Regions from separate parts of the Homo sapiens genome. Here region 2 is linked to region 1. The links come from fine-mapping of genetic effects on gene expression. A gene starts in region 1. The other region holds a variant in brackets. All regions are shown on one strand. Distances are between the middles of the regions.

What was found.
Region 2: its variant is fine-mapped to the expression of NUCB1 in tibial artery (GTEx, PIP above 0.99). The same link has a PIP of 0.9 or more in aorta, esophagus muscle, gastroesophageal junction, sigmoid colon and subcutaneous fat.

What each region holds. Positions count from the first base shown.
Region 1 is chr19:48,897,338-48,902,547 of GRCh38, forward strand. NUCB1 (nucleobindin 1) reads left to right here and starts at 2,975. Exons shown (of 13, transcript NM_006184.6): 1 at 2,975-3,035; 2 at 3,449-3,594. The coding sequence starts at 3,460. It overlaps TULP2 (TUB like protein 2), which reads right to left and starts at 1,407. Exons shown (of 13, transcript NM_003323.3): 1 at 1,253-1,407; 2 at 500-532; 3 at 8-59. The coding sequence starts at 531. RefSeq lists an enhancer at 802-1,617 and a cis regulatory region at 1,152-2,151.
Region 2 is chr19:48,918,959-48,924,367 of GRCh38, forward strand. NUCB1 (nucleobindin 1) reads left to right here. Exons shown (of 13, transcript NM_006184.6): 9 at 72-164; 10 at 236-328; 11 at 2,196-2,366; 12 at 2,869-2,974; 13 at 3,360-4,414. The coding sequence ends at 3,466. Among named protein-coding and RNA genes, the nearest start is that of NUCB1-AS1, 2.8 kb to the left of the region's middle. RefSeq lists enhancers at 132-631, 3,778-4,277. The variant T/C (reference allele first, on the strand shown) is at 3,126.

The sequences.
Region 1 (5,210 bases):
ACAATACCTGCTGTTCCAGCTTCTGCAGCCTCATAGCAGCGAGCTCATGCCCCAGGATGCTGAGAGAGACACAGGCCCATGGTGACAGTGCACAGGGAACCTCGGTTGCCCAAGAGAGTCCCTCCTTCCCCCATCCTGCCCCTATCTCAGCTTGGGTTCTGGGCACCTGTGAGGTCACAGGAGGTGCAGAACCTGAGCCTGCTCCACCAGTTATAGGGCCCTTTCTCCTGGCACTGGCCCACAGAAGCCGGGACCCAGAGATCCCAGGTCCCTCCTGTCTCAGGATTCAGGAGTCTGGGGCCCCCAACCCCTTCTCTTTCAGACCCAGAAGTCTGCACCCTAGCCCCATCCCTTCAGGACACAGGAGTCCAGGTCCCCAGCCCCTTCCTGCAAGGCCGATGGTGCTGAACCTGCAAACATGGTTATGAAGCCAGAGCCGAGTGCACGGGGTCCCCAGCCCTTTCCACCTCCACCCCTACCCATCTGTTTCCCTACTCACTCTCTCATCAATGTGTCATTATCCTGAGACATTCTGCAGAAGCAAGAATGAGGAGTCAGGATCAGAACCAACATCCCAATGGATCCTGCCCACCAGCACCTAATCTTTAGCCTTATTTATTTATTTATTTATTTATTTATTTATGTATTTAGAGACAGCTGAGCCTCGCTCTGTCGCCCAGGCTGCAGTGCAGTGGCGCCATCTCGGCCACTGCAACCTCCACCTCCTGGGTTCAAGCGATTCTCCTGCCTCAGCCTCCCGAGTAGCTGGGACTACAGGCGTCCGCTATTCTGCCTAATTTTTTTGTATTTTAGTAGATACCGGTTTTCACTATGTTGGCCAGGCTGGTGCCGGACTCCTGACCTCAGGTGATCTGCCCGCCTTGGCCTTCCAAAGTGCTAGGATTACAGGCATGAGCCACAGTGCCCGGCCTGATCCTTACCTTTAAATTTGCTTCCGGACCCAGGCAGCCCGAATCCCAGCACCCACTCCTGTCGGGATCTAGTAGCCTGTTTCCAGCTTCCCACGGGGGTCCGCAAGTCCGCTTCTCTCTCCCCCAAATATCTAATTCTCCAGCACCCAGGCATCAGAACTCAGGACTGTGCACTTCAAACACCCAGCCCCCAGCGGCCTAGAACTCCACTGCCCACCTGCCTGGGATCCGGGAGACTTGTTCTCCTCACCAGGTGCCTGGAGAGGCTGCTCACATTGATGCCTCGGTACCTTGCCTCTCTGGCCAATCTCTAAACATACCTGATCCTCTCTTTGGAAGCTGGGGACCTAATCTCGGGATATCTGCGAAATAGGGAGGAGAAGAAAGACGGCTCAGAGGGAGGGAGGATTCCCTCTGGGACCTGAACTGGTCCACTCCCTTCTGACCCTCCACTCTCCACTTCCAACAAAGTAACGAACTCGGTCACTGATGCAGCCAGGCAACCCTGCTCCGGGGGTTCTGAACACGAATGCCGTGTGGGGGTTCCTTAAAGAGACCAGAGACCGGCCCGGCGCGGTGGCTCACGCCTGTAATCCCAGCACTTTGGGAGGCCGAGGCGGGCGGATCACGGGGTCAGGAGATCTAGACCATCCTGGCTAACATGGTGAATCCCCGTCTCTACTAAAAAAAAATATATATATATACACAAAAAAATTAGCCGGGCGTTGTGGCGGGCGGGCGCCTGTAGTCCCAGCTACTCGGGAGGCTGAGGCAGGAGAATGGCGTGAACCCGGGAGGCGGAGCTCGCAGTGAGCTGAGATCGCGCCACTGCACTCCAGCCTGTGTGACAGAGGTAGACACCGTCTCAAAAAAAAAAAAAAAAAGAGAGAGAGAGAGCGGGAGACCAGAGACCTCGCGGCCTCACTGTACACATCTCGCTTACAAGAAACTTAAAAGAGGCGGGGCGCAGTGGCTCACGCCTGTAATCCCAGCACTTTGGGAGGCGGAGACGGGGAGGCAAGATTGCTTGAGTCCAGGAGATCCAGATCCAGACCAGCAACACAGAGATTTTTTTTTTTTTTTGAGACGTAGTCTCACTCTGTCGCCCAGGCTGGAGTGCAGTGGCGCGATCTCGGCTCACTGCAACCTCCGCCTCCCGGGTTTAAGAGATTGTCCTGCCTCAGCTTCCTGAGTAGCTGGGATTACAGGCATGCGCAACCACGCCTGGCTAATTTGTATTTTTAGTGGAGGCGAGGTTTCTCCATGTTGGCCAGGCTGGTCTCAAACCCTTGACCTCAGGTGATCTGCCTGCCTCAGCCTCCCAAAGTGCTGGGATTACAGGAGTGAACCCCCAAGCCCGGCTTGACATCCGTCTCTTTAAAAAACAACAACAACAAAGTGTGAGAAGTGTGAAAGACAGAACGTTAAAAAAAAAAAAAGGCTAAAAAAGAATTAAAGATTTAAATATTTGTATTAAAAATTTAAAAAATATACATTAGCCAGGCATGGTAGTGTGGCCTGTGGTCCCATCTACTTGGGAGGCTGACGCGGGAGGATTGCTTGGGCCTGGGAGGTAGAGGCTGCAGTGAGAAGTGATTGCGCCACTGCACTCCAACCTGGGTGACAGAGCAAACCCTGTCTCGAATAATAAGAAGAAGAAGAAAGAAACTCATAAGAAAGGCTATGCAATTGCTACCGCGCTATAACTTCCAGGCACTTCGTGGGGCGAAAATAAATGGGAAAACTACAGCTCCCATGAGGCGAAGGGGCCACGATGCCCGCGGAAGTTATTTTTCCCCCGGCCGGCAGGGAGTTGTAGTTATCTTTGAAAGCCTTCTCTCTCTTTTGGCATAGGCGGGAAATGTGGCGTCAAGAGGCTGGGATTCCGAGAAAGAAGCGAGGCTTTCACGAAAATGCGAGCGGCTTCGGCAAGGGGCGGGGCCGCTGGACGTGGATGAAAGCTACAGAGCCAGCGTGGACCAATCAGACCTCTTTGGGGCGGGGCCTCTGTGGATAAGTGGGCGTGGTCTAGGGGGGAAGTCACCAAGAACGCACCGGAGGTCCTTGCCCGCCCTGGAAAACGCCCTCTGCGGTGAAGGAGAGGTGAGAGGCCAGGGTTCCCATACTCTTGGGTCCTAGGGAGGATGGGGGCCAGAGGGCTGGAAAACTGGGTCCCGGAGGAGGATGCACTGGGTGCCAGTACTTTAGGTCCTGGGAAAAGAGGAGGCTGGGACCCTGGACTCTTGGGTCTGGGGGAGGAGGCGGCCGAGATCCCGGATTCCTGAGTGTGAGAGAGGAGCGTGTTGGGAGCCAGGACCCCTGGGTCTGAGGGCCCAGACTCCTGTGTCGGAGGAAGGGAAGGCCGGAGGCCTGGAATCCTGGGGCCTGGGTAACAAAATGCTTGTGTCTTGATTCTTGGAAGTGGGGGCGGCGCTGGGGGCCCGAACTCCTGGTTCCAGGGGAGGAAGAGGCTTGGGACAGACATTATGCATTATCCAGCCCTCCATCCCCCACAGACCACACTGCCATGCCTCCCTCTGGGCCCCGAGGAACCCTCCTTCTGTTGCCGCTGCTGCTGCTGCTCCTGCTTCGCGCCGTGCTGGCTGTCCCCCTGGAGCGAGGGGCGCCCAACAAGGAGGAGACCCCTGCGACTGAGAGTCCCGTGAGTGGCCCTGCCCTGCTATCCAGCCAGGTGTTTGCAGTGGTACTACAGCTCCTGCAGACCCCGGTGCCCGTAGGGCGGATGCTCCAGTGACTTCCTGGCCCTACAGTTGTAGCTTGTTTTTTGCCCACCATTCCTCCCAGCAGCAGGGGTTTGACTTGGTGAAAAACTGGAGGTCCCTGACTCTGAGGTGTGGAAAATCTGCATCACGCCCCAACTAAACGTCTGTTTTTTTAAGATTCTCTCCACCCAAGAAGGAATTTGAAAACAAACAAACAAAACTACATTTCCCAGTAGCACCATGTTGCTAGTTCCCAGTAGCAGTTGATGTTGGCTAGCTGGGGTATTCTGACTTCATGGTGCTCTTGGGAGTTGTAGTTTAAATTACAGAAGGGCGGGTGAACTGCTTGTTTATTAATTCCTACATGTGTTTATCAAACCCAATAAAAGCTTTGGTCTTAAGGGATTTGGAACTTTGGAGATCCTGAAGGTCAGTGAGTGTCTTGTGGTCCGAATCTTCCTATAGCTCCCCATAAGGATAGGCTGGTCAGGCCAGGCGCAGTGGCTCATGCCTGTAATCCTAGCACTTTGGGAGGCCGAGACAGGCGGATCACTTGAGGTCAGGAGTTCAAGACCAGCCTGGCCAACATGGCAAAACCCCATCTCTACCAAAAATGCAGAAATTAGCTGGGCGTGGTGGCTCACGCCTATAATCCCAGCTACTCTGGGAGGCTGAGGCACGAATTCTCGTGCTGGAACCAAGAGAGGTGGAGGTTGCAGTGAGCCAAGGTCACGCCATTGCACTCCAGCCTGGGCAACAGAGCTGAGACTCTGTTTTCTGAGACTGTCTCAAAAAACAAAGAATGGGCTAGTCATTACCCCCTGGAACGGATCATTGCATGTTCCTGGTCCCCACGCTGCAAGTTAGGCCTCTATTCTGTGAAATCCTTGCAGACCCAGGAAGGCTTTGTTGAGTCCCATTTCTTTTCTTCCATTCCACATGTTTCCTGAGCACCTTCTATGAGCCGGGCATAGTGTTGCCTATGTGTTGCATAGTTGTTAGGGCCCAGCCATGTGCATGCCCCATGCCCATGGACTATCCCTGCTCACTGGGAGATGGAAGACAAAGGGCAGGGCTCTATGAGAGTGAACACCAGGGGTGACAGTCAGGGAGGAAGGGAGGCGTGAGTTGAGTTCTTTCTTTCTTTCTCGCTCTGTCACCAGGCTGGAGTGCAGTGGTGCAATCTTGGCTCACTGCAACCTCTGCCTCCCAGGTTCAGGTGATTCTCCTGCCTCAGCCTCCCGAGTAGCTGGGACTACAGGCGCACACCACCACGCCCATCTAATTTTTGTATTTTTAGTAGAGACGGAGTTTCACCATGTTGGCCAGGATGGTCTCGATCTCTTGACCTCTTGATCTGCCTGCCTCGGCCTCCCAAAGTGGTGGGATTACAGGCATGAGCCACCTCATTTTTTCTTTTCCTTTTTCTTTTTTTTTTTTTTTTTTATTTTTGCTGTGTCACCCAAGCTGGAGTGCAGTGGTGCAATCACTGCAATCTCCATCTCCCAGACTCAAGCGATCCTCCTGCCTCAGCCTCTGGAGTAGCTGGGACTGC
Region 2 (5,409 bases), 22 kb after region 1:
GAGTTGAAGTTGTCGGGAATGAGCTCGCTGGGGACCTCTCAATGCTGTCTGCCTCTCGCTTGCTCCTGCAGCTGGAGAAAGTGTACGACCCAAAGAATGAGGAGGACGACATGCGGGAGATGGAGGAGGAGCGACTGCGCATGCGGGAGCATGTGATGAAGAATGTGAGGTGGGGGCCAGGCGGGGGAGAGGACGGGCCCCCAGCTCTGTCACTCACCCTTATCTGGCTCCCCAGGTGGACACCAACCAGGACCGCCTCGTGACCCTGGAGGAGTTCCTCGCATCCACTCAGAGGAAGGAGTTTGGGGACACCGGGGAGGGCTGGGAGGTGAGAACATGGGGGATACTCGGGGTCCTGAACCTCTCTCTCTTCTAGCCATGACCTTTCTTTCAGAATCTTAGGCCCCTTCTCTTTCTCTCTGGGTCCCCGTCCATTCTCCTGGGTCACTGCATCTCTATCTCTGGGTCTCTGTTTTCCCCTGTCTCTAGGACTCTTATTTATTTATTTATTTATTTATTTATTTATTTATTTATTCTGAGACGGAGTCTCACTCCATCGCCCAGGCTGCAGTGCAGTGGCACGATCTCGGCTCACTGCAGCCTCCACCTCCCAGGTTCAAGCAATTCTCCTGGCTCATCCTCTTGAGTAGCTGGGATTATAGGTGCGTGCCACCACACCCAGCTGATTTTTGTATTTTTAGTAGAGGCAGGATTTCACCATGTTGGCCAGGCTGGTCTCAAACTCCTGACCTCAGGTTATCCACCCACCTTGGCCTCCCAAAGTGCTGGGATTAGAGGTGTGATTTTTTTTTTTTTTTTTTTTTTTCTGAAACAGGGTCTTGCTCTGTCGCGTAGGCTGGAGCCCAGTGGTGGGATCTCGGCTCACTGCAACCTCCGCCTCTTGGATTCAAGCGATCCTCCCATCTCAGCCTCATGAGTAGCTGGGATTACAGGCGTGAGCCACCATGCCTGGCTAATTTTTGTATTTTTTGTAGAGATGGGGTTTTGCCATATCGGCCAGGCTGCTCTAGAACTGCTGGACTCAAGCGATCCACCTGACCTGGCCTCCCTAAGTGGTGGGATTACAGGCATGCACCACCGCACCACACCTAGCTAATTTTTGTATTTTTTGGTAGAGACAGGGTTTTGCATGTTGGCCAGGCTGCTCTGAAACTCCTGGACTCAAGCTATCCACCCTTCTCAGCCTCCCAAAGTGCTGGGATTACCCAGGCTGGAGTGCAGGGGTGTTATCATGGCCCACTGCAGCCTCAAACTCCTGTCCTCAAGTGATCCTCCTGCCTGAGCCTCCCTATTAGCTGGGACTACAGGCACATGCCAGCATGCCTAGCTAATCTAGCTCATTCTTTTATTTATTTATTAATATTTTTTGAGACAGGGTCTCCTGTCACCCAGGCTGGAGTGCAGTGGTGTAATCATAGTTCACTGCAGCCTTGAATTCCTGGGCTCAGGTGATCCTCCTTCCTTAGCCTCCTGAGTAACTGGGACTACAGGCACATACCACCATGCCCAGCTAATCTAGGTCTCTGTTTTATTTATTTATTTATTTGTTTGTTTATTTTTCAATACAGAGTTTTGCTCTTGTTGCCCAGGCTGTAGTGCAATGGTGCATTCTCAGCTCATTGCAACCTCCACCTCCCAGGTTCAAGCAATTCTCCTGCCTCAGCCTCCTGAGTAGCTGGGATTATATGCATGTACCACCATGCCCTGCTCATTTTGTATTTTTAGTAGAGACGGGGTTTCTCCATGTTGGTCAGGCTCATCTCAAACTACTGACCTCAGGTGAGCCACCCACCTCGGCCTCCGAAAGTGCTGGGATTACAGGTGTGAGCCATGGTGCCTGGCCTATTTCTATATATTTTTCAAGATGCCCAGCCAATTTTCTGTAGAGACAGGGTCTCGCTCCGTTGCCCAGGCTGACCTTGAACTCCTGGCGTCAAGTGATCCTTCCCACTTTCGCCTCCCAAAGTCCTGGGATTACAGGTGGGAGCCATGGTGCCCGGCCTTGTCTCTCGGTCTTTATCCCACTCCCACCTCCCACTTGGGCTTCTTTGCCCACCCACATGGCCCTGGCCTCCCAGCCTCCTCTACACCTCCCCCATTGGCACAACCCTCTCCAACATGGGTGGGCCGAGGTTGGACCTGTGCCCCTGATGGCCCCTGTGCCTGCCCTGCAGACAGTGGAGATGCACCCTGCCTACACCGAGGAAGAGCTGAGGCGCTTTGAAGAGGAGCTGGCTGCCCGGGAGGCAGAGCTGAATGCCAAGGCCCAGCGCCTCAGCCAGGAGACAGAGGCTCTAGGGCGGTCCCAGGGCCGCCTGGAGGCCCAGAAGAGAGAGCTGCAGCAGGTGACAGCGGGGGAAGCTGCTTCCATCCACTGAATCTCTGGCTGCCCGTGTCCGTGTCCCCATGGGTGTCCAGAAGCTGGGAAGGCCTGTGGCCACCATGTTAATCACTGGGGGAGCCTCAAGTATTCACCGCCATCTTGAGTAAGGGCAGACGTTTTCCCGTCTCTGACGGCTCTGTGGCTGCCATGTGAGATAAGGGCATTAAGGCTGTAAGTGAGGAGGGAAAGGCCCAGGAGGGGGAGAAAGGCAGACTCAGCCAGGGATGGGTGAGGGTTTCCCTGTCCCAAAGCAAGACCCAAGCTGTGACTGGAGGGAGAACTGGATCCTTGACTATTATTAAGCCCGACTGTCAATGAAAGAGAGAAACTGAGGCCCACGGAGAAGGGGTTGGCCGTGACCACTTAGCAGGCTGCTGTGAAGTCTCCGTTTGGGGACTGAGGCCTGAGCACTTGCAATGCCAGCATCACACCCTCTTGTCTGTGTGACCCCCCACCTCCCACAGGCTGTGCTGCACATGGAGCAGCGGAAGCAGCAGCAGCAGCAGCAGCAAGGCCACAAGGCCCCGGCTGCCCACCCTGAGGGGCAGCTCAAGTTCCACCCAGACACAGGTGCTGGCCCTAGTCCAGGGAGGAGGGGCTGCAGGGCTGGACCCCTGGGTCTGAGGTTGGAGGGGCTGGGCCTGGACTCCCAGATCTGAGGGAAGAGGGACTGGGGGCCCAGACTCCCAGATCTGAGGGAAGAGGGACTGGGGGTCCGGAC[T/C]CCTGGGTCTGAGGGAGGAGGGGCTGGGGGCTGGGACCCCTGGGTGTGAGGGAGGAGGGGCTGGGACCCCTGGGTGTGAGTGAGGAGGGGCTGGGGGCTGGACCCCTGGGTGTGAGGGAGGAGGGGCTGGGGGCTGGACCCCTGGGTGTGAGGGAGGAGGGGCTGGGCCTCTGGGGTCCTGGGGGAGGAGGGGTTCGGATGTCCTGTGCCACCATTCCCTCCCTCCATTTCCAGACGATGTACCTGTCCCAGCTCCAGCCGGTGACCAGAAGGAGGTGGACACTTCAGAAAAGAAACTTCTCGAGCGGCTCCCTGAGGTTGAGGTGCCCCAGCATCTGTGATCCTCCGGGACCCCAGCCCTCAGGATTCCTGATGCTCCAAGGCGACTGATGGGCGCTGGATGAAGTGGCACAGTCAGCTTCCCTGGGGGCTGGTGTCATGTTGGGCTCCTGGGGCGGGGGCACGGCCTGGCATTTCACGCATTGCTGCCACCCCAGGTCCACCTGTCTCCACTTTCACAGCCTCCAAGTCTGTGGCTCTTCCCTTCTGTCCTCCGAGGGGCTTGCCTTCTCTCGTGTCCAGTGAGGTGCTCAGTGATCGGCTTAACTTAGAGAAGCCCGCCCCCTCCCCTTCTCCGTCTGTCCCAAGAGGGTCTGCTCTGAGCCTGCGTTCCTAGGTGGCTCGGCCTCAGCTGCCTGGGTTGTGGCCGCCCTAGCATCCTGTATGCCCACAGCTACTGGAATCCCCGCTGCTGCTCCGGGCCAAGCTTCTGGTTGATTAATGAGGGCATGGGGTGGTCCCTCAAGACCTTCCCCTACCTTTTGTGGAACCAGTGATGCCTCAAAGACAGTGTCCCCTCCACAGCTGGGTGCCAGGGGCAGGGGATCCTCAGTATAGCCGGTGAACCCTGATACCAGGAGCCTGGGCCTCCCTGAACCCCTGGCTTCCAGCCATCTCATCGCCAGCCTCCTCCTGGACCTCTTGGCCCCCAGCCCCTTCCCCACACAGCCCCAGAAGGGTCCCAGAGCTGACCCCACTCCAGGACCTAGGCCCAGCCCCTCAGCCTCATCTGGAGCCCCTGAAGACCAGTCCCACCCACCTTTCTGGCCTCATCTGACACTGCTCCGCATCCTGCTGTGTGTCCTGTTCCATGTTCCGGTTCCATCCAAATACACTTTCTGGAACAAATGCATGGCTCCATGCCTGTGTATCTGGACTGGTCCCTCCAAAACGCTATTGCCACGTCACCTGCCGGAGTCCTCATCTTTGAAGACTGGATTCAAGCATCACTTCTGAGAGGCTCAATCCTGGTATTTTTCCATCTGCCCCTGATGAGTCTGCAGCCTTCACTCAGGGTCCCTTCAGCCACAAGGACAGAAAACCCAAACCTGGGATTAAGCAATTTTTTTTTTTTTTTTTTTTGAGATGGAGTCTTACTCTGTCACCCAGGCTGGAGGGCAGTGGTGTAATCTCAGCTCACTGCAACCTCTGCCTTTTGGGATCAAGCGATTCTCCTGCCTCCGCCTCCCGAGTAGCTGGGATTACAGCTGCCTGCCACCACGCCCGGCCTTCTAATTTTTGCATTGTTTTAGTAGTGATGGGGGTTTCACCATATTGGCCAGGCTGGTCTTGAACTCCTGACATCATGATCTGCCCACCTTAGCCTCCCAAAGTGCTGGGATTACAGGAGTGAGCCACTGCACCTGGCCGGGATTAAGCAACTTTTAAAAGATGAATTTGGCCAGGTGCTGTGGCTCACGCCTGTAATCCCAACACTTCGAAAGGCCAAGATAGGGGGGATCACTTGAGGCCAGGAGTTCAAGACCAGCCTGGTCAACATGGCAAAACCCCATCTCTACTAAAAATACAAAGATGAGCCGGGTGTGGTGGTGGGCACTTGTAATCCCAGCTACTCGGGAGGCTGAGGCAAGAGAATTGCTTGATCCTGGGAGGCGGAGGTTGCAGCGAGCCAAGATTGCACCACTGCACTCCAACCGGAGTACCAGAGCAAGATTCCATCTCAAAAAAAAAAAAAAGAATGTACCAGGTATGGTGGCTCCACCTGTAGTCCCAGCACTTTAGAAGGCAGAGGCGGATAGATCACGAGGTCAGGAGATGGAGACCATCCCGGCTAACACGGTGAAACCCTTTCTCTACTAAAAATACTAAAAAAATTAGCTGGGCGTGGTGGCAGGCACCTGTAGTCCCAGCTACTCAGGAGGCTGAGGCAGGAGAATTGCTTGAACCCAGGAGGCAGAGGTTGCAGTGAGCCGAGATCATGCCA